Linked DNA regions of Homo sapiens. The protein of the gene in region 3 purifies or fractionates together with the protein of the main gene of each other region. This does not show direct contact. Each region holds a gene or a part of one and is shown on either strand. Other genes may lie near its edges.

Region 1 (4,274 bases), on a different chromosome or scaffold from region 3:
TTTCAATACAATGAGAGCTCTCAGAGAGGTGGAGGCTTTCCTTATTTATCTTTGGGTCCCCAAAGCCTAGCACTTGCCTGGCGTGTTGAGTTCCTCCGCATCTGCGTCATTGAATTAAGTGGCTGAGTCTCGGGGGTGGAGGGGACTGGACAGGCTTCCTGGTCCTGAGAAGTCTTTCAAGAGGCCTTCAGGGCAGGCAGGCCAGGTTCCCTGCTGTTAACTGTTACCTGCTGCCTTCCCCTGTCATTCAGATGCCCAGGACAGGCCAGGGTCCCCTGGAGAGTGTATGCGCCATGGCCCCTGGCCTTGGGGAACACTCACCGTTGACCCAGCAGGTGGTTGGCACTCAGACAGTCATTGCTGCCCAAACCACCAGCAGCAAAGACAGAGCAGAATTAAACAGAGCTGTCAGCCCTGTTCAGTGAGAGGAAGAGTAGGTGGGTTTGTTTAAAACACTCCCATTACAGTCAGTTAACCTTTATGTTCCCTAAATGAAAATTGTATAAACCTGAGATTTCCGTTGATCGGGTTGCCTAGGAACAGGCAGCAGGTTTTCATAAGACAATGCAGTAGATTGTCACCGATAGGGCTATTAGGAAGTGAGCTGGTTAGCGGTATTATTCCCCTTGCTGGTGTTGGCTTTGGGTAATTATCTGTCTGCCTGTGCGAGACACGCCCATCTTCCTAGGCTTGGGGCAGGTTCATGCAAATGAGATTTCTCAGCCTGCTCCTCTGGAGTCCTGAAGCCAGTTTTCACCCCTGGGCTTAGGAGAGAAACCTAAAAGAGCCAATTTGGATGAGTTTGTTGTTTTCAATCACCTTTCCCCCCTACCTGCAATGACAATATTCTAATAGCCCTATCAGTGACAGTCTATTGCATTATCTTACAAAAACCTGCTCCCTGTTGCTTAGCAGAAAGCTTAGAAAATAACTAGCAAAATGCCCAATTAAAATTTAAAAACAGAGTGATTCTAAGACAACTTTAGTATGTCTTTTCAGTATTTTTCCCTATATGATATATGCACTTGTTTATTTTTCAAAAAGTCAGTGACATTTGCTGTTTTCCCGCTTGCAGTTAAAGAAACCCATCATCCTGGTTTGCCTGGGACTGAGGGGTTTCCCAGTACCAGTGCATGATTATTATCAACACACTTTTTCATAGCTGCATAGCATTCAATCAGTGTGGATAATCCAAACTCAGCTAATTCCCTGTTCTTCTATATTTTAGGTATTTCCTTTTATTAAAAAAAAAAATTCTAATTCCGGTAGGGCAAATTCCTAGAGGTAAGATTACTAGGTGTATGTATAAATTTATGGCTTTTGATGTAGTGTCTGGTTGCCCTCCAGAAAAATACGTGCCAATTTCCACCCCTCCACACTATACCGTCAGAAACCCTTACATCAAACAATGCTTTCATCACTGTCAATCTGTGGGCAAAAAATATGCTTCATCTTGGGGAATGTGTTCTTTATTAGCCGTCTGTGAATTGTCTACTCCTGTCTTTTACCCATGTCTGTTTTGGGATGCTCATCTCTTTTAATCTATAGAACTCTGTATTAAGCATATTAGTCATGAATGTTGAACCATTTTGTCCACTTTTTAAGGCATTTGTGGTTATTCTTGAAAGAGCAAGAGTAATACCTGTTGTCCGGTGTCTTTGAAGAAAGGTGACTTATATCTTAGGTAATTATAGCATCCCCCTAACCTTGAGCACTAAAATATTTTTTGATTGAAGTATTTGGGATGTGAGTATCTCCAAAATGGATAACCCATAGAGGTTCCTTTTTTATTTTCGTTTTATTTATTTTTTTTATTTTTTGAGATAGAGTCTCGCTCTGTCGCCCAGGCTGGAGTACAGTGGTGCGATCTCGGCTCACTACACCCTCCACCTCCCGGGTTCAAGCGATTCTTCTGCCTTAGCCTCCCAAGTAGCTGGGATTACAGGAGCATGCCACCACACCTGGCTAATTTTTTTGTATTTTTAGTAGAGACAGGGTTTTGCCACGATAGCCAGGCTGGTCTCGAACTCCTGGACTCAAGCAGTCTGCCTGCCTTAGCCTCCCAAAGTGTTGGGATTACAGGTGTGAGCCACCACGTCCGGCCTAGAGGTCTCTGTTTAAACAATGTATATTGCACACAGTTTAACTTTTTCTTGCTATCTCAGGCACACCTGTGAACAATAGCAATTTTCTGTGTTACAGTGATACCTCAGCAGCTGTTGAACTATGTAGAGCTTTTGTTCCTATACCATATGGCCCAGACTGCTCTTTAAATAAGATACCTGTTTCTTGTCTTTTCTCCGTCATTTAAATAAGATACCTGTTTCTTGTCTTTTCTCCGTCACTATCAGGCGGCCATGCTGTTTCTTTTGGCTGTTAAAAGCATCCGTGCCTTACCCTGCAACATCCCATCTTCATCAGCAGTGGGATTGATGACTGGCTAACAATGCTTGTTAAATTTCTCTGTAAACAAAAAGCAAATAAGTGCTAATAAGCACAGGCCTAAGGCGCTCTGGTAAAACAGTGAAGGAGCTTCCGAGGGCCACAGTTTTACTTATTCCCTGAGGTTTATAGTTCGCATAGTTAAGGTTATTAAATAAGTGACCTCTGGGTATACAAGCAGATTAGCATGAAGAAATTTGAGAGTCAGAAGGGAAACAGAAAGGGGAGATTAGCAACCACTTGAAAATGTAGCTGCAAATGAGAAACTAGTAATCCAGATGAACAGAATCAGTGTTTAATCTTATTACTTCCCTCAGGAGTGTGGTGGTGGTGTAGGTTTTGTGGAAATGTGGCATTGCTGACCTAGAAATTCTAAAGATCTGGTTTGTAGGCCTGAACCTGTTGGGGAGGGCTTTCAGCATGTTGCACAAGAATTTTTTTTTTTTTTTTTTTTTAAGACAGGGTCTCGCTGTGTCACCCAGGCTGGAGTGCAGTGGCGTGATCATGGCTCACTGCAGCCTTGACCTCCCAGACTCAGGTGATCCCCCTACCTCAGCCTCCCAGGTAGCTGGGACTACAGGTGTGTGCCACCACACCTGCCTAGTTTTTTGTATTTTTTTAGTACAGACGGGGTTTCACCATGTTGCCAGGCTGATCTGAAACGCCTGGGCTCAAGCTGATTCACCTGCCTCCACCTCCCACAGTGCTGGGATTACAAACATGATCCCCCACGCCCAGCCAACACAAAACTTCTGATGCTCTGTTTTCTCATCTGTGAACTGGAGCTAAGGCTAAGTGGTCTGTCTGTTTAATAAGAGTTTGAATCAGATGGCCTGGCATGAAGAGTCACTGGCCTGAGAGAATGTCAGGGGCATTTGTAAATGTGTAAAGGGCTGAAAAATCCTGAGGGATTATTATTATTGCTATTGTTGTTATTATTCACAGACACATCCAACAGCCATTGTCTGCCTCCTTATCTGTCATGCTTTCTGCACGAGCGTCAGCCTGAGCTTCAATCTGTGTGTATATCTGCAGCTTACGTCCTTGCCACCCCTCCAGAACCCAGTTTCATCCTTGTAGGTTTTTCCGAAGCAGGATTTGCACAAGTGGCGTGTTTTCTTAAGTATTTATTTTGCAGGCCATTTACTCGGCATGGCTATTTTTACAGTGGGTAAGGAGCAAGGCTAAAAATAACTTAGCTCATAACCAGACAGGTTCTGCATTTGACATTTACGTGGAATTCATTTGCATCTCATTTGTTCGCCTTTCTGTTTAACAGGTAGAATGTAAGAAAGCTCAGCCGAAAGAAGTCATGTTCCCACCTGGGACAAGAGGCCGGGCCCGGGGACTGCCTTACACCATGGACGCGTTCATGCTTGGCATGGGGATGCTGGGTGAGTCTGGACAGGACCGCAGGTCACCATGGACTGGGAGGGCTATGGAGGCCTCTACTCCCAACTGGGTCACCTACCAGTGGGGCAAACTGCTTCACCTTTCTAAGCCTCAGTTTCCTTGTCTGTAGATGAGGATGATAATTCCCCGTTCCAAGACAGTTGTGATGATTAAGTGTGGGTGTGTGTGTGTGCATGCATGTGTGTGTGTGTGTGTGTGTGTTTGTATTTATAATATTGCCCCATGCCTGGCTTATAGGATATGTTAGACTATTTTCTCTCTTTTCCATCTCCTTCCTCAAAAGAAGGAAAAGTCCCCCTCTATCTGCCTCAGCCCTCTCATCTGAGTGGGAGTTCTTAAGATGTAAGGACTCCTGGCTGACTTGACTTGTGTGGGCTAAGGCTACGTTTTCTAAAACTTGGGAGAGGAGGGAAGTGGTA
Region 2 (4,274 bases), on a different chromosome or scaffold from region 3:
CCTTCTGCTACCATATCCACCACTTCCACCACCAGATCCATAACCACCTGAAAATATACATAGTATTTTAAAAGAAGTATGCACATTTTTTAAATTAAAAAGGCTCTAAAGAATTGATTTAAGAAAGTACTTACCACCATAGGGACTGCCCGAGCTTCTTCCACCAAAACTGCCCCCTTTCATGGGTCCATAATTTGATTGCTGTTGTCCACTATAATTTCCAAAATCATTATAGTTCCCACCACCACCATAGTTACCTGAAATCAGAAAGGTTTTATGTGTGGTTTACCTACACAATCATCATTTTCCCCTTTTAACGTATGTAACTATTATCTTTTGAGAATTATGGTAGCATGCTTATACACATCACTGTGGTAGCACCACTTGGGGTAACTGATGTCAGGATATTAAAAGACCATCAACATTTTGTTTATATTAAATGCTGTCCTCTAGGCGCATGTTCTCTCTACCATTAACACCATTAAAATTGCCAGTGTTCCATTCACTATGATTCTGAAGCAGTATAACATTTAAAACAATGAGAAGGCATTCTAACTTGTTAAAACTTCCACTCATCTGTCATTGACATGTTAATTAGGTCCAATAAAACAGTGCATTCCTAAGAAAGCTTTTAACAGTATTGTGGCTTAATGACCTACATACACTAGCTTGCTTAAACGCTTCAACTACCTGTGACATATTATATTAAGACCCAAAGTACTTTGTTAACCTGGGCCCTAGATGGCAACCTGCTCACTTCAACACGTCTGGAGTATTCAAACAATTTATTCCCGGTTGTCCAGTTTAAAAGTACCAAGGAGTTAAGTAAAATTTTGGCAATAAATAAACTCCCAATCTTTTACACGTAAAACATGTACTGAATACTGGTAAATGTCCATTTTTTACTACTCAACTAAAAATTCAGTACATTTGGCTGAGTGCAGTGGCTCATGCCTGTAATCCCAGTACTTTGGGAGGCAGAAGCGGGCAGATCACAAGGTCAGGAGATCGAGACCATCCTGGCTAACATGGTGAAACCCCATCTCTACTAAAAATGCAAAAAAATTAACCGGGCGTGCTGGCATACGCCTGTAGTCCCAGCTACTAGGGAGGCTGAGGCAGGAGAATCGCATGAACCCGGGAGGCGGAGATTGCAATGAGCTGAGATCACGCCACTGCACTCCAGCCTGGGCAACAGAGCAAGACTCCATCTCAAAAAAAAAAAAAAAAAAAAAAAAAAAGAAAAAAGAGAGCTGAGTACATTTGTACATTTTACTAAATAACCAGCAAAGTCAAGAAAATTTGGTTTGAACTACCAACCATTTTAGTATTTTTCTTATAGAACATAAAATTTGATCAAACGCTTTTAACACTTTCCAAATATGTGTCATGGGAACTGTTAGCAACACTGAATATTTAACATTTAAATAAAACAAGTGAATGCTTACCACCGCCAAAATTTCCTCCTTCATTGTAACCATCATATCCTCCACCTCCACCATATCCACCACCTTGGTTTCCATATCCTGGTCCACCACCACCATAGCCCCCTCTACTACTATAACCAGGACCACCGCCATAGTTGCCACCTAAAAAAACAACAAATAACAAGACCACACAAAAACTTAAGTGTATAGTCACGTTATTCAATTCTGGTGTGTGTGTAAGAGACTGGGTCTTGCTCTGTTGCCCGGGCTCAAGTACAGTGGTGCAACCACAGCAATGCAGCCTTGAACTCCTGGGCTCAAGCCATTCTCCCACCTCAGTCTCCTGAGTAGCTAGACTATGGGCATGTGCCACCATGTTCCCCTATTTTATTTTTCTAGATATACGGTCTCCTTATGTTGCTCAGACTAGTCTCAAAATCCTCACCTCAAGCAACCCCTCTGCCTCAGCCTCCTGAATAGCTAGAATTACTCAACTCTGGTTTTATATTACATTTAAGCCACTGGCAAATAAGCCAATGAATTGATTTAGCACTCTGAAGCCTGGTAATACCTAATAATAATAGAGTATCAAGTATCTGCACTAGTAAGAATGAAAAATAAATGTGTAACCCATCTTCTGATAGTAAAAAAGAAAATCAGTTTTCATTTTACAAAATTTCACTAAGAAAAATATAGTCTCAGACTTAATAGAACAATTCTAGCTCAACCCCTACTACTTGCTGAAAAAGAGCAGCTAATGTCTCTCCAGGGGAAAAAGGGTTCCTGTTCTTCCATGTACAGTTTGGAAATACACCTTAACCATTTAGCCACTGAAGTTTTAACTAAAATTAGAAAAGTGTAATAAATAATTTTCAATAAGTAAAGAAAGTTAAAATATCAAACATCAATGAAAATAAGCCACCTACCATCACCTCCAAATCCATTATATCCACCATCACCTCCTCCATAACTACCTCTGCTGCCACCACCTCCACCACCATAGCCTCCTGAGGAAAAACAAGAAATGAATTAAAATAATATATTCAACTTACCAAAATGTCAGGTATCCATGTACTTAGAAGATAAACAGCCTACCTCTTCCACCAAAGTTTCCACCACGGCCAAAATTACCTCCACCACCTCCAAAGTTCCCTCCGCGACCCATAAAATTGCCAGATCCACCTCCACGACCTTTAATACAGGCAAGGGAGATTTTTAAGAACCTTACAAACACCACTCATATCCACTGTATACATGTGTATGGTCCTACTCACCTCTCTGTGATCCAGCAGACTGCATCTCTTGTTTAGAAAGGGCCTTTTTCACTTCACAATTATGCCCATTAATAGTGTGGTATTTCTGAACTAAATTTTTTTTCAATCAAACAAAACAAAAAGTTATTTTATGTTTGGAAAAGCACATATATGAGATACCCTCTGTCATTATGTAACCCATTAAGACATAATCAGGTAGTGACTCTGGTAATGAAGGAGCATTCTGAGATGTTTATGTTTATTTCTTGATCTGGATACTGATTACACAGGCAGACACTATGAAAATTGACTATACACTATAAATGCCATTACACGCAACAGAAAATTACAATTTAGCAAATTTAGTTCAAAACAGAAAAACCAGTTCTACTTTCTCATTCAAGTTACCATAAATTGCTACTTACCAACAATTTTATCAACTGTATCATGATCATCAAAAGTTACAAAAGCAAATCCTCTCTTTTTTCCACTCTGCCTGTCTTCCATAACTTCTATGGTTTCAATCTTGCCATACTTTTCAAAGTAGTCTCTCAAATTATATTCTTCTGTATCTTCTTTAATACCACCAACAAAAATTTTCTTCACTGTTAGATGGGCACCAGGCTTTACAGAATCCTACAAATAAAGTAATATATTAAGTCAAGAAACAAACTTTCACAACAATTTCACATATTACACAATGTATTATTAAAATACCTCTCTAGAAACAGCTCTCTTTGGTTCCACTACACGCCCATCAACCTTGTGTGGTCGAGCACACATTGCTGCATCCACCTCTTCAACACAAGAATAAGTCACAAAACCAAAGCCCCTGGAACGTTTTGTTTGGGGGTCTCTCATTACCTACAAAATAAAAAGTTTTATAACGTTGAAAACACCTCCACCGGTTCTCTACACCCCTTAGAACCCTTCTGTTCTCTTAGTAACTTACCACACAATCTGTGAGTGTGCCCCATTTCTCAAAATGTTCTCGTAAACTATCATCTGTAGTTTCAAAGCTCAGACCACCAATAAACAGTTTTCTCAACTGCTCTGGTTCCTTTGGATCATGGCCCTGAGAGAAAGAACCAATACTCTTAAGTTACCTTACAGTAGATGAATTAAGATGCACGAAGAGCCTTTAATGTACGGTAAGTAATAAAATCAACATCAAATTCCTGTGACAGTTAACACTTTGTCCAGTTAAAACTTTGACCAGACACCGGCGCGATGTCTCATGCCTGTAATCCCAACACTTTGGGAGGCCGAGGCAGATGGATTACCTGAGGTCAGGAGTTCGAGACCAGCCTGGCCAACACGGCGAAACCCCATCTCTACTAAAAACACAAAAATTAGCTGGGCGTGGTGGCGGGCGTCTGTAATCCCAGCTACTCGAGAAAGGAAAATCGCTTAAACCCAGGAGGCGGAGGTTGCGGTGAGCCAAGATCATGTCATTACACTCCAGCCTGGGCCATAGGAGCGAAAACTCCGTCTCAAAAAAACAAAACAACAAAAACTTTGACCAGAAATAAGACTTCAACTGTTAAAGGGGCTAACTTATGTCAAGGAAACCTATAACCAGCCTTTCAAATGC
Region 3 (5,444 bases):
CGGGGCCCCCCCCCCAGCAAGCCCCTCCTCTCCCTCCCCGCACGCCCTCCGTCCTTCCCCGCCCGCAGCCTCCTTCCCTCCGGCGCATCGCGATCTCCTTCACGGCGCCAGTAGGAGGACTGCGCTCCTCACCCCGCCCACGCGGGTTTCTTGAAGCTAAGGGGCCTCCTCCTCGGAGCGCCTACTGCACCTGCCGAGCTACAGGGCGGCGGGAGCCAGGGGGATGGGAGCAGGAGGTGGGGAACCGCGGCGCCACAGAACTTGGCAGGAGGCGTGGGGGAGATGGCGGAGCAGCTCTGCGGCCTTGTTCAGCGCTCTCCCAACCCCCGAGCTTGCGGATTTTTCTCTGCACCAGGTGTCGCTGTCTCAAAGATCTCAGTTCCCTCAGCTCCACCCACCACCGTCCAGCCAGAAACCAGCCTCACCTCAGCACCCCCTGCCCCCATCCCATCAAAAGTGCTGTGGCTCCCAGCTCTTGGAATTCCAGGAATCCCCCAATCACCCCCACACACCCCACCCTGCGGGCCACCCTAGACTGCCCCCACAGCACCTGTCGAGCTGAGCCTGCAGCACACCCACCACAGCCCTAAGGCAGGGCCAGACCCCTGGGCTCTTTTAAACCAGTGGGTGTCCGGAGGGGTGGCCTTCTGCCAAGGCCGGTATCTAAGTAGCCAGTGTGGGGAAGAGGGTCTCTGAAGGTGGCCAGTCAGCAGCGGCTGGCTGAGTTGACAAGGGAGTTTCCAGAAGGCCCCCCAGCCCCTGTGCACGGCCGGTACTCAAGTTCCCCACTGGACGCCGGGCCACTGGGTAAGTCCCTGGGCACAGGGTAGATGGCAGATGAGGACGCACATGGGGCAGTGGTGCCTGGGTCAGGGGCAGAGCAGCCTCATCAGGCCCTTGCAGAAGCTGGGCCTGGCCTGGAGGGGTGGGGAATGAGGACAGGGTTGGGGGGTGGAAAGGAGGAAGGCCAGGAGTTCCCATAACTCCCCCAGAGCCTCTCAGAAAGGGAGCCAGCATGAGCTGATTCACCCTCTGACCCGAGGCCAGCCTCGCCCGCCCCCAGGCCTCTCGGCCTGCTGAGCCTTTGGCTGGTGGCCTGCAAAGCCCCCCTTCCCCACTCCCAGAAGGCCAGGAGGGCTCAGAGGCACTTCTGAGGATCTGGGAGTTGTCGAGGCGGACTCAGAGTGCCAGGGCTGGGTGCGGGCTGTCTAGGGTGGCCTGGACTCACCCTGCACAGGGAGCCCTCGCCTATGAGACCCTGGAACGGCCCCCTGGGGAGGGCAATGGGCAGCAGAAGAGCAGGCGCCGGTGGCAGAGCCTGCTGCCAGGACCCCACTGCAGCTCCCTTGGCACTCCCCAGCACACACGCGCATGTACACACACAGGTTTTCCAAGTGTTCAGGTTTACTGAGAGCATTAGGGGCAACAAGGGAGCCCTGGGCATCTGGGGACAAGGCCTGGCATTTGCCTGGACAGTGGCCCTGCAAGCAGCCAAGGATGGGGTCTCCACCACCTGTGCAGAGAGAGACAGGCACAGACGTGAGTGCAGCGTCCACGGCCTCCTTTGGGGCCCACGAGTGGTCAGGCCTCCCTGGGAGGGGGCATCCCCATCCCGAGGGTGGAACCAGGAGGCAGGATAGGGGGTGGGGTCCTACCTACCTGGTTTACTTGAAAGTGTGGCTCTCGGCTCCGCCCCGCCCAAAGCCTGCAGAGAAGGTGGAAAAAGTCAACAGGCTGGGGTGGAGGAGGCTGTGGGGTGGGGTGGGGTGGGGATGACGGGAGCATACCTTTAGGCCCAAACATGGCTGCGTAGCAGGGGTGGTTGCAGTAGGGTTTGCCTTCGTGCTGCAAAGAGAAGGGCCGTGAGGGGGTGCCATCACCCCTGGCCCCTGCCACCAGGGTGGGTCCCACCTACCTCAGCGTGGCCCCCAGAGGTCAGCGTCTTCCCACATTTCTCGCACTTCAGGCAGGGCCGATGCCAGTCCTTGCCCAGAGAGGTCACCCTCTCGGCTGCAGAGGCACAGACAGGCCCCGGTGAGACGCTGCAGGACGCGGCGCCTACCCACCACTGGCGTACCCGCCTCTTGCAGCCAGCTCTGCCCAAGGCCCTGTGCACTTAGCCCGCATCCGCCCAGCCTGGCAGCCCACCCTAAGGTCTCAGCACCCTCCATGAGGGGAACATCTCCAATCCCCAGAGCCAATACAACTAAACAAAGCGCGGGGTCGCTGGTCCCCGGGGCACTTTCGGGTGCGGCCGGGAATCTTGCTCCTGAAGGCTGGGTGGGGCTAGAGGGCGAGGCCGAGGGTCAGGGGTCGCGGCTTAGGTCAGCAGGGCCTGGGCCTGGCTGCCTGCTTTCAGCCCCGGGCCTCTGCGGTGGCAAGGGTGGAGCCTGCGACAGCCCTTCTCGGCGGGGACAGGGGTGACTTCCCACTTCCTCCCTCCCCTCGGGGCGCGCGGGCGCGGGGCAGGGAGGCGGGCGCCCGGGATCGCGCCCCGGGCGTCGGTTTCCGCGTCTGTTTCCACTTAGCGCTGGGGGGCGCGGCCCCAGCCCCGCGTTCCTTCCAGCCCTGCGGGTCCCCCACTCAGGGCGCGCCTGAGAGGAAACGGCAGAGACCGTAGGACCCAGAGACGGGGAGGCTCAGAGCCAGAGGTAGCCCGCCGAGCACAGCAAGACCACTAGCAGGCAGAGATCGCCAGGGCCCTCGGACGCAGGGGCCTCCACCCTCATCCCGGGGCAGGCGGCGGGCCAGGCTGAGGCGTTTTCAGGCTGGGGCGCCGCCCCAGGGACCCAGCGCCCCCGGTCCTCCTGAGCGGTCCCCAGCCTCGTCGCCCCGTCGGCGGCGCCTCCTCGCGGGGCCGGTGTGGGCGCGCTCACCGAAGTACACCTCCTTGTTGCACTTGGGACACTTGGGCATGACGGCTCCGGGTCCGGTGCAGGCGGCAGCGGCTGGGGCGGCACGGGCTGCAGGCGCGAGACTGGGTGGATCCGGCCTGGTCCGCGCCTTTCAGGGACCCCGGGACCCCGCCCCTTGGAGACCCCGCCCCTCGCGCCCCGCCCTCTGAACCCAGGACTTGGACCCTGGGGACCTCGAATCTAGGCCCAGGGCCCAAGAAAGATCATCTGGTCCACCCCCGCCTTCAGGCAGGACCCGGGCCTGACTGAGGACGGAGCGCGGGGGGGCAGGGGGCCATGGGGACTTACTGAGAGGGCGCAGCTCTTTAGGCGAGTTCAAGCCGCGCCCCTAGCCCAGCGCTGTGATGTCTCCCGGGTCCAGTTCCGAGGCAAAAGGCTCACCCGCAGCAGGAAACGCCGCTCCCACCCCCAGCCCTACCCCACCGGCACCCGCCCGAACCCCAGATCTGCCCGGGCCAGGACTGGACCAAACATCACTAAAATGCAAAGAGATGCAAAGCAGCCCGCGCGCTGATCCTGCCCTCCCCAGGACGGAGGGTCGGGGACAATTGCCGGAGAGCCCCCGCTGTTGCCCCCCACCGAGGAACCCACTCTGACCTTCCATCCCACGCAGGGTTACGAGGCCGCCCCTGTCAGTCCCCTCACTCCCAAGGGACGTCCCCGCCTCTGCTAGCTCCCCTGACCTCCGCTGCTCTGGGAGGTCCATCGGACCGCAGCGGGAACATCCCCGGGGAATTCAAAAGCGGGGACTCCCAGAGAGGGGAGCTGTAGCTTGAGGACCGATCGGCTGCGGGGGCTGCGGGGGCTGGGGTTTCGGCCGGCAAAAGAGAGTTCAGCCACCCCCAGGCCGGCTCGGAGATGCCCGGACCGGGCGCAGGGAGGGGCCCTTATCTCTGCGGGTAGCGCCCAGGGCGGCCAGAGCGGTCCAAGTACGCTGCAAAGTTGAGGCGGAGGATGGTCCCGGTGCCAGGCGGAGTCTGTCCCGCCTCACCCGCCCCCCAGATTCAGGAGGGCCAAGGGGGCTGCGCTGGCCTCGGGCTTTGGGGTCAGCCCTCTAGCTGACTGGCCAGCCTCAGGAAGGGAGCCCAGGTCACTGTCAGCCCCCTCTCCTGTCACTGAGCAGGGGAGCCCTCTCTCTGCAGGCCCTTCACCTCCATGCTGCATGGAGCTCCCTGGGAGCTCCCACAGCACAAGGGCGGTGCTGCCCTTCCTCCCCACCCACCATCCCTCCTGTCAGCCATGTTAACCAGCGTCCTTATCTCCCCTCGATCTCCACTGGGCCTGTGCTGGCCCTGTCCCCGCTGGGGGCGCTGGAGACCATCCTCCTGGGCCCCAGGAGCCGCTGGCCTACCGCTGTCGGGCCCTGAGCCCTAACTGCACCTGTGATCCCAACCTCACTTTCCCTGAATCCTACCGCACCCCTGTCGGCACCTCGAGGCCTGCACTTAGAGGAAGAGAAGCCGCCTGCCCTGCCCTGTCTGCCACCAGTCCCCAGCTTGGGGAGAGGGCAGGGGCAGCAGGGCTGTAGGACGGCCAAGGCACAGGCGTCTGGCACAGAGGCCACACTCCAGAGAGCCCCACACCAGCACACCCAGCCCAAGGCCACATCCTGCTTGCCCTCCTCCTGGCGCCCCTCTAAGGCCACAGTTCTGTCCCCCGACTGGGGCTAAGTCCTGGGGTCTGATAGGACATTCCACAGGGGCCCATTGGAGCCCTCCTCATCCCCCATTCTGAGACCTCAGAGATAAGGTTTCCAGAGTAGGGGTGCGCTCCTGTCCTGCAAACTTGGAACCCCCACTCTCCAGCCCATGAGCCTTGAAACCCACTCTGAGGTCTGGGCCCACCTGCCATCTCCACTGAGTGTGGGGCATCGTGGGACAAACCTGCAGACAAGCAGAGGGAGAGGCAGAGGCACCAAGAAGGGGGAGAGGCCAGGGGAGCCCGGACAGTATTGGGGAGGCCGGGGGCTCTGTCACTGCACTTTCCCTGGGGCGTGCGCTGCCCCCAAGCCCCAGGGTGCCCAGCACCGCTGTCCACACCCCCACCAGGATGACGTGCTCCGGGTGCAGAGGTGCAGGGCAAGTGCCTGATGCACACGTGTGTGCCTGGTGCCCGTGGACATACCCGTATGGGTGTGTCCATCAGGGGTCTCTGGGGTCCCCGCGAGCATGTGTGTGGTCCCTCTCGCAGTTGTCCGCCCATATTTCTGTCAAGCCTCCTCCCCAGCCCATCCCAGCTCCTGGCCCGGTACCTTGCAGCTCATGTACGGACATTAGCCAGGGCAGATAGGGACAATGACCCAGTCCTTGTCCTCCCCTCTACCCGCCCCCAGGGATGGTCCCTTCCCCCACACTCTGGACTCCAACCCACCCTGCCCATGGAGGAGCCCCTCCTTGAAAACCAGGGTGATGAGTCCATTCCTGGCCTTCCCTGCTGTTGCTTCCTGTCACCATGGTCACGGGTGGGGTGGGGGGCAGGATGCCCTCGCCGTGGGGCCACGCCTTCTGTGTTGGCTCACAGCAGTTTTTC
Region 4 (4,274 bases), about 42 Mb from region 3:
CCTCAAAATTTAGCTTAGGATATTTCAAGCTTCTATTTTTTCCATATGAATACTTTTTTTAAAAAAGAGAGAGAGATTCATAAATAAGATTCCAATGTTTATACAAAATTTTTGGAAACTGAATACTGATTACTGTAAAGATGATATATCTACCAGTCAGTAAAGATGAGCTCCTGTGAGCTTTGGGGGAGAAAATTTTGACTAGAGATTTTGCTGGTAAAAATGAAAATAGTCATTATGAGGCTTTGGAAAGAAAATGTAGGAAACACTGTAGATTGAACTATGCTTGAAATACAAAGTTGGGAGACACTGGTTTTTAGTAATCTATTTAATCTGAAGTAGATATGTAATGGGTGTTAACTTCTGTATCTGTAAAGGACTTCATTCTGAGGAAGCCAGTTAAATTTTTTTTTTTAGAATTAGAAGGAATTTAAAAACTTACACTAATTTCTTGGATCTTATGGTAAACAATTAAATTAGGACTTCACTGACCACTCATAGTCAGGGTATTGGTTTTGTGGGTAGTGAAAGAAGCATGCATGAGAAGAATTTGGACACATGCTTTAATGTATTTTTTCTTTAATGCTTTCATGTCTTTTTTCTCATTTTAAAAAATTATGGTAAAATATACATAACATGAAATTTACCATCTTAACCATGTTTAAATGTGCATTAAGTGCCTTGACATTGTCATGCAACTGTCCCTACCATCCATCTCCAGAACCTTTTCATCTTCCCCAACTGAAGCTCTGTACCTGTTAAACACTGACTCCCTGTTTCCCCCACCAGCCCTTGGCAACCGCCATTCTGTTTTTTGTTTCTATGAATTTGACTACTCTAGGTACCTCCTATAAGTGATGCCATGCAATATTTGTCTTTTTGTGACTGGCTTATTTCACTTAGTCAAGTGTCTTCAGTGTTCATCTCTGTTGTAGCAGGTGTCAGAATTTCATTCTTTTTTAAGGCTGAATAATTTCAGTGTATATACATACCATATACTTTTTAATCCATTAATTCATTGGTGGACACTTGGGTTGCTTCCACCTTCAGGCTATTGTGAATAATGCTGCTGTGACCATGATGTACAGATACCTGTTTAAGTTCTGGCTTTCATTTCTTTTGGGTATGTACCCAGACGTGTAATTGCTGGATCATATGTTGAATTTTTCAGGAATTGCCATACATATTGCCACAGCAACTGGACCATTTTTCATTCCCATTAGCAATGCATGAGGGTTCCAGTTTTCTATATCCTCACCATCACTCATTTTCTGCTTTTTAATTTTTTGATAGTAGTCATTATAATAGGTATGAAGTGGTATTTCAGTGTGATTTTTATTTGCATTGCCCTAATGATTAGTGATGTTGAGCATCTTTTCCTGTGCTTTTTGGCCATTTCTGTATCCTTTTTCTCACTTTTAAAAGTGAAGTCTGCTAGTGTTGCCAGTTTTCCAAGAACTCTGCTTTCCAAGAATGTGATTTTTTGAACTTGTATATTTTGCCAGTATGAGAGAATTGGAGAGTAACAGGACTATATACTCACAAACCTAATTCCAGAGTGACTAACAGTGATTGTTATGTAGTAAGCACATTCTGGGTAAATACTCTGGAAAGTATTCTATAAATTAGAAATCCATCTCTGTCTGTAGAATAACATAAGGAAGTATAATCAGAAATAGACTTCAGTAATGTGTATTTGCTCTTGATTTTCTAGGAAGTAATTTATGGAATATAAAGAAAATGTAGGAGGAATTTCTTTTCTAGGATTTTATTTTTTTTGGCCATTGCCTTAAGAGAAACCAGGATAAACACTATATGCATGCTAAGGGTAGTTATTGATTTAATTTTCTATAGTATTGCTTTGACTAAATTGGGTTAATTTTATTTGGAGTACAATATAAAATATGGTTGAATTTTGTGAGTTGTTTTAAATAATGAAGTCAAAGAGGTGTCCTTAAGGTCTTTAATTTCAGGGGAGTTTGAATACGATAATTATACAAACAGTGATTATGTAACTCATCTTTTAATATGTCATTTTTGAATGCTCAGATATGCATTAATAACCACTCGTTTTGTGCATGCATTATCAGAATGTTTATTATATGCATCATAATCTTTGATTTATAAATAATACTGCATTAATTCTTAGCGTTTTAAAGTCTGTTCACTTGCAAAACTGCAACATAATGTGAAGGGAAAGTTTTTGTTTTGCCCTATTTCTTTTTTTTTTGAGATGGAGTTTTGCTCTTGTTGCCCAGGCTGGAGTACAGTGGTGCGATCTCAGCTCACTGCAACCTCTGCCTCTTGGTTCAAGTGATTCTCTTGCCTCAGGCTCCTGAGTAGCTGGGATTGCAGGTGCCCACCACCACACCAAGCTAATTTTTTTGTATTTTTAGTAGAGACGTGTTGAGACCAGCCAGGCTGGTCTCAAACTCCTGACCTCAGGTGATCCACCTGCCTTGGCCTCCCAAAGTGCTGGGATTACAGGCGTCAGTCACTGCGCCCAGCCTATTTTGCCCTATGTCTAATAGGTGGGGTTTTGAAATCTGTATCACTGATGTTATTTCCTGTAGAAAGCAACACCACCTGTAATTCTGTATAAATCTACCTGGTTTTTCCGTATCTGTGTGTTAGGAAATTATAGGATGAACTTTGCAAAGATAGACATTTACATTTTCTCCATCTTTATATGCTTTTGTGAAAGTGTTCTTGGAGAGCCTTAACATTTTTGAGGCTGGGTATGGTGGCTCACACCTATAATCCCAGCACATAGGGAGACAGAGTTGGGAGGCTCGCTTAAGCCCAAGAGTTTGAGACCAGCCTACGCAACATAGTGAGACCTCATCTGTACAAATAATTTAAAAAATTAGCCAGGGTGGTGGTGTACACCTGTGGTCCCAGCTACTTGGGAGGCTGAGGCAGAAGGATTGCCCGAGCCCAGGAGGCTGAGGCTGCAGTGAGCTGTGATTGTTCCACTGTGTCCAGTGTGGCTGACAGAGTGAGACCTTTGTCTCAAAATAAAAACATTTTTTTCTTTGAGTCTAAAAGATTCTTACTCATTCACTGATAGGGAAAACCTAGTAGAGGTTTAGTGCCTTACTTACTTGATAAGAAAGTAAAATCTTGGGGGAGGCCGACAGGGGGCGGGTCATTTGAGGTCAAGAGTTTGAGACCAGCCTGGCCAACAGGGTAAAACCCCATCTCTGCTAAAAATCCAAAAATTCGTGGATGTAGTGGTGTGCATCTATAATCCCAGCTACTCAGGAGGCTGAGGCAGGAGAATCACTTGACCCCGGGAGGTGGAGGTTGCAGTGAGCTCATATTGTGCCACTATAAACTCTGTCTTAAAAAAAAAAAGAAAGTCAAGACTTGGATACTTTCCTTACACTTACACAGCAGGACATGAAGCAAGCCTTGACTGTTATCTAGGTAAGTTGTTGAGTAAGACAGTCAAACTAAACAGTTAGGCAAACACACAAACACACACACAAATTTATGTTAATAATAATCAGTGGTAGTAGCACCTGGCTGGGTGATTTATGTTCTCTCCTCACCCCAGCCTCCTGTGCCTCATTTCCTTGCGTTGACTTTAAGCAATTCTGTAAGTTTAGATTTGGGTGAACGTTTTCTGAAGAATACTGCCTCTTTGAAGATGGAATTATAGTGAAAGTAGCATTGTTATTTCTTTTGTTTGTTTGTTTTTCTGAGACAGAGTCTCGCTCTGTCACCCAGGCTGGAGTGCAGTGGCGCAATCTCGGCTCACTGCAACCTCTGCCTCCCAGGTTCAAGTGATTCTCCTGCCTCAGCCTGCGGAGAGTAGCTGGGATTACAGGTGTCTGCCACCACATCCGGCTGATTTTTATATTTTTAGTAGAGACGGGGTTTCTCCATGTTGGCCAGGCTGGTCTCGAACTCCTGACCACAGGTGCGTCCGCCTGCCTAGGCCTCCCAAAGTGCTGGGATTCTTGGCATGAGCCACCGCGCCCGGCCGCCATTGTTATTTCTTGTCTCACAATTCATTATACATTTCCGAGGCATTTTGCAGATAGTTTGTACATTCACTTTTAGATATTCTTACAACTATGATGACTAGACGGAGTTTAGCTCTTGTTGCCCAGGCTGGAGTGTAATGGTGCGATCTCGGCTCACCACAGCCTCTGCCTTCCGGGTTCAAGCCATTTTCCTGCCTCAGCCTCCCAAGTAGCTGGGATTACAGGCATGCGCCTCCATGCCCGGCTAATTTTGTATTTTTAGTAGAGATGGGGTTTCTCCAT

What was found.
Region 1: the proteins of CRIP1 (region 3) and MSI2 fractionate together in Homo sapiens (co-fractionation; one large-scale study listed by BioGRID). This does not show direct contact.
Region 2: the proteins of CRIP1 (region 3) and HNRNPA3 fractionate together in Homo sapiens (co-fractionation; one large-scale study listed by BioGRID). This does not show direct contact.
Region 4: the proteins of CRIP1 (region 3) and PPP2R5E purify together in Homo sapiens (affinity purification with mass spectrometry; 2 studies listed by BioGRID and IntAct, with this or other methods). This does not show direct contact.

The regions. Positions count from the first base shown.
Region 1 is NC_000017.11:57,612,249-57,616,522, forward strand, and holds part of MSI2 (RNA-binding protein Musashi homolog 2), read left to right. Parts: intron 1-3,721; coding exon 3,722-3,836; intron 3,837-4,274.
Region 2 is NC_000002.12:177,215,020-177,219,293, reverse strand, and holds part of HNRNPA3 (heterogeneous nuclear ribonucleoprotein A3), read right to left. Parts: intron 3,756-4,274; coding exon 3,633-3,755; intron 3,545-3,632; coding exon 3,398-3,544; intron 3,317-3,397; coding exon 3,106-3,316; intron 2,792-3,105; coding exon 2,702-2,791; intron 2,619-2,701; coding exon 2,523-2,618; intron 2,435-2,522; coding exon 2,354-2,434; intron 1,590-2,353; coding exon 1,449-1,589; intron 258-1,448; coding exon 135-257; intron 48-134; coding exon 1-47. UniProt on the Homo sapiens protein: Plays a role in cytoplasmic trafficking of RNA. Binds to the cis-acting response element, A2RE. May be involved in pre-mRNA splicing.
Region 3 is NC_000014.9:105,484,732-105,490,175, reverse strand, and holds CRIP1 (cysteine-rich protein 1), read right to left. Parts: upstream 3,291-5,444; 5' UTR 3,204-3,290; intron 2,978-3,203; 5' UTR 2,917-2,977; coding exon 2,877-2,916; intron 2,011-2,876; coding exon 1,916-2,010; intron 1,846-1,915; coding exon 1,788-1,845; intron 1,706-1,787; coding exon 1,665-1,705; 3' UTR 1,660-1,664; intron 1,514-1,659; 3' UTR 1,229-1,513; downstream 1-1,228. UniProt on the Homo sapiens protein: Seems to have a role in zinc absorption and may function as an intracellular zinc transport protein.
Region 4 is NC_000014.9:63,533,378-63,537,651, reverse strand, and holds part of PPP2R5E (serine/threonine-protein phosphatase 2A 56 kDa regulatory subunit epsilon isoform), read left to right. Parts: intron 1-4,274. UniProt on the Homo sapiens protein: The B regulatory subunit might modulate substrate selectivity and catalytic activity, and might also direct the localization of the catalytic enzyme to a particular subcellular compartment.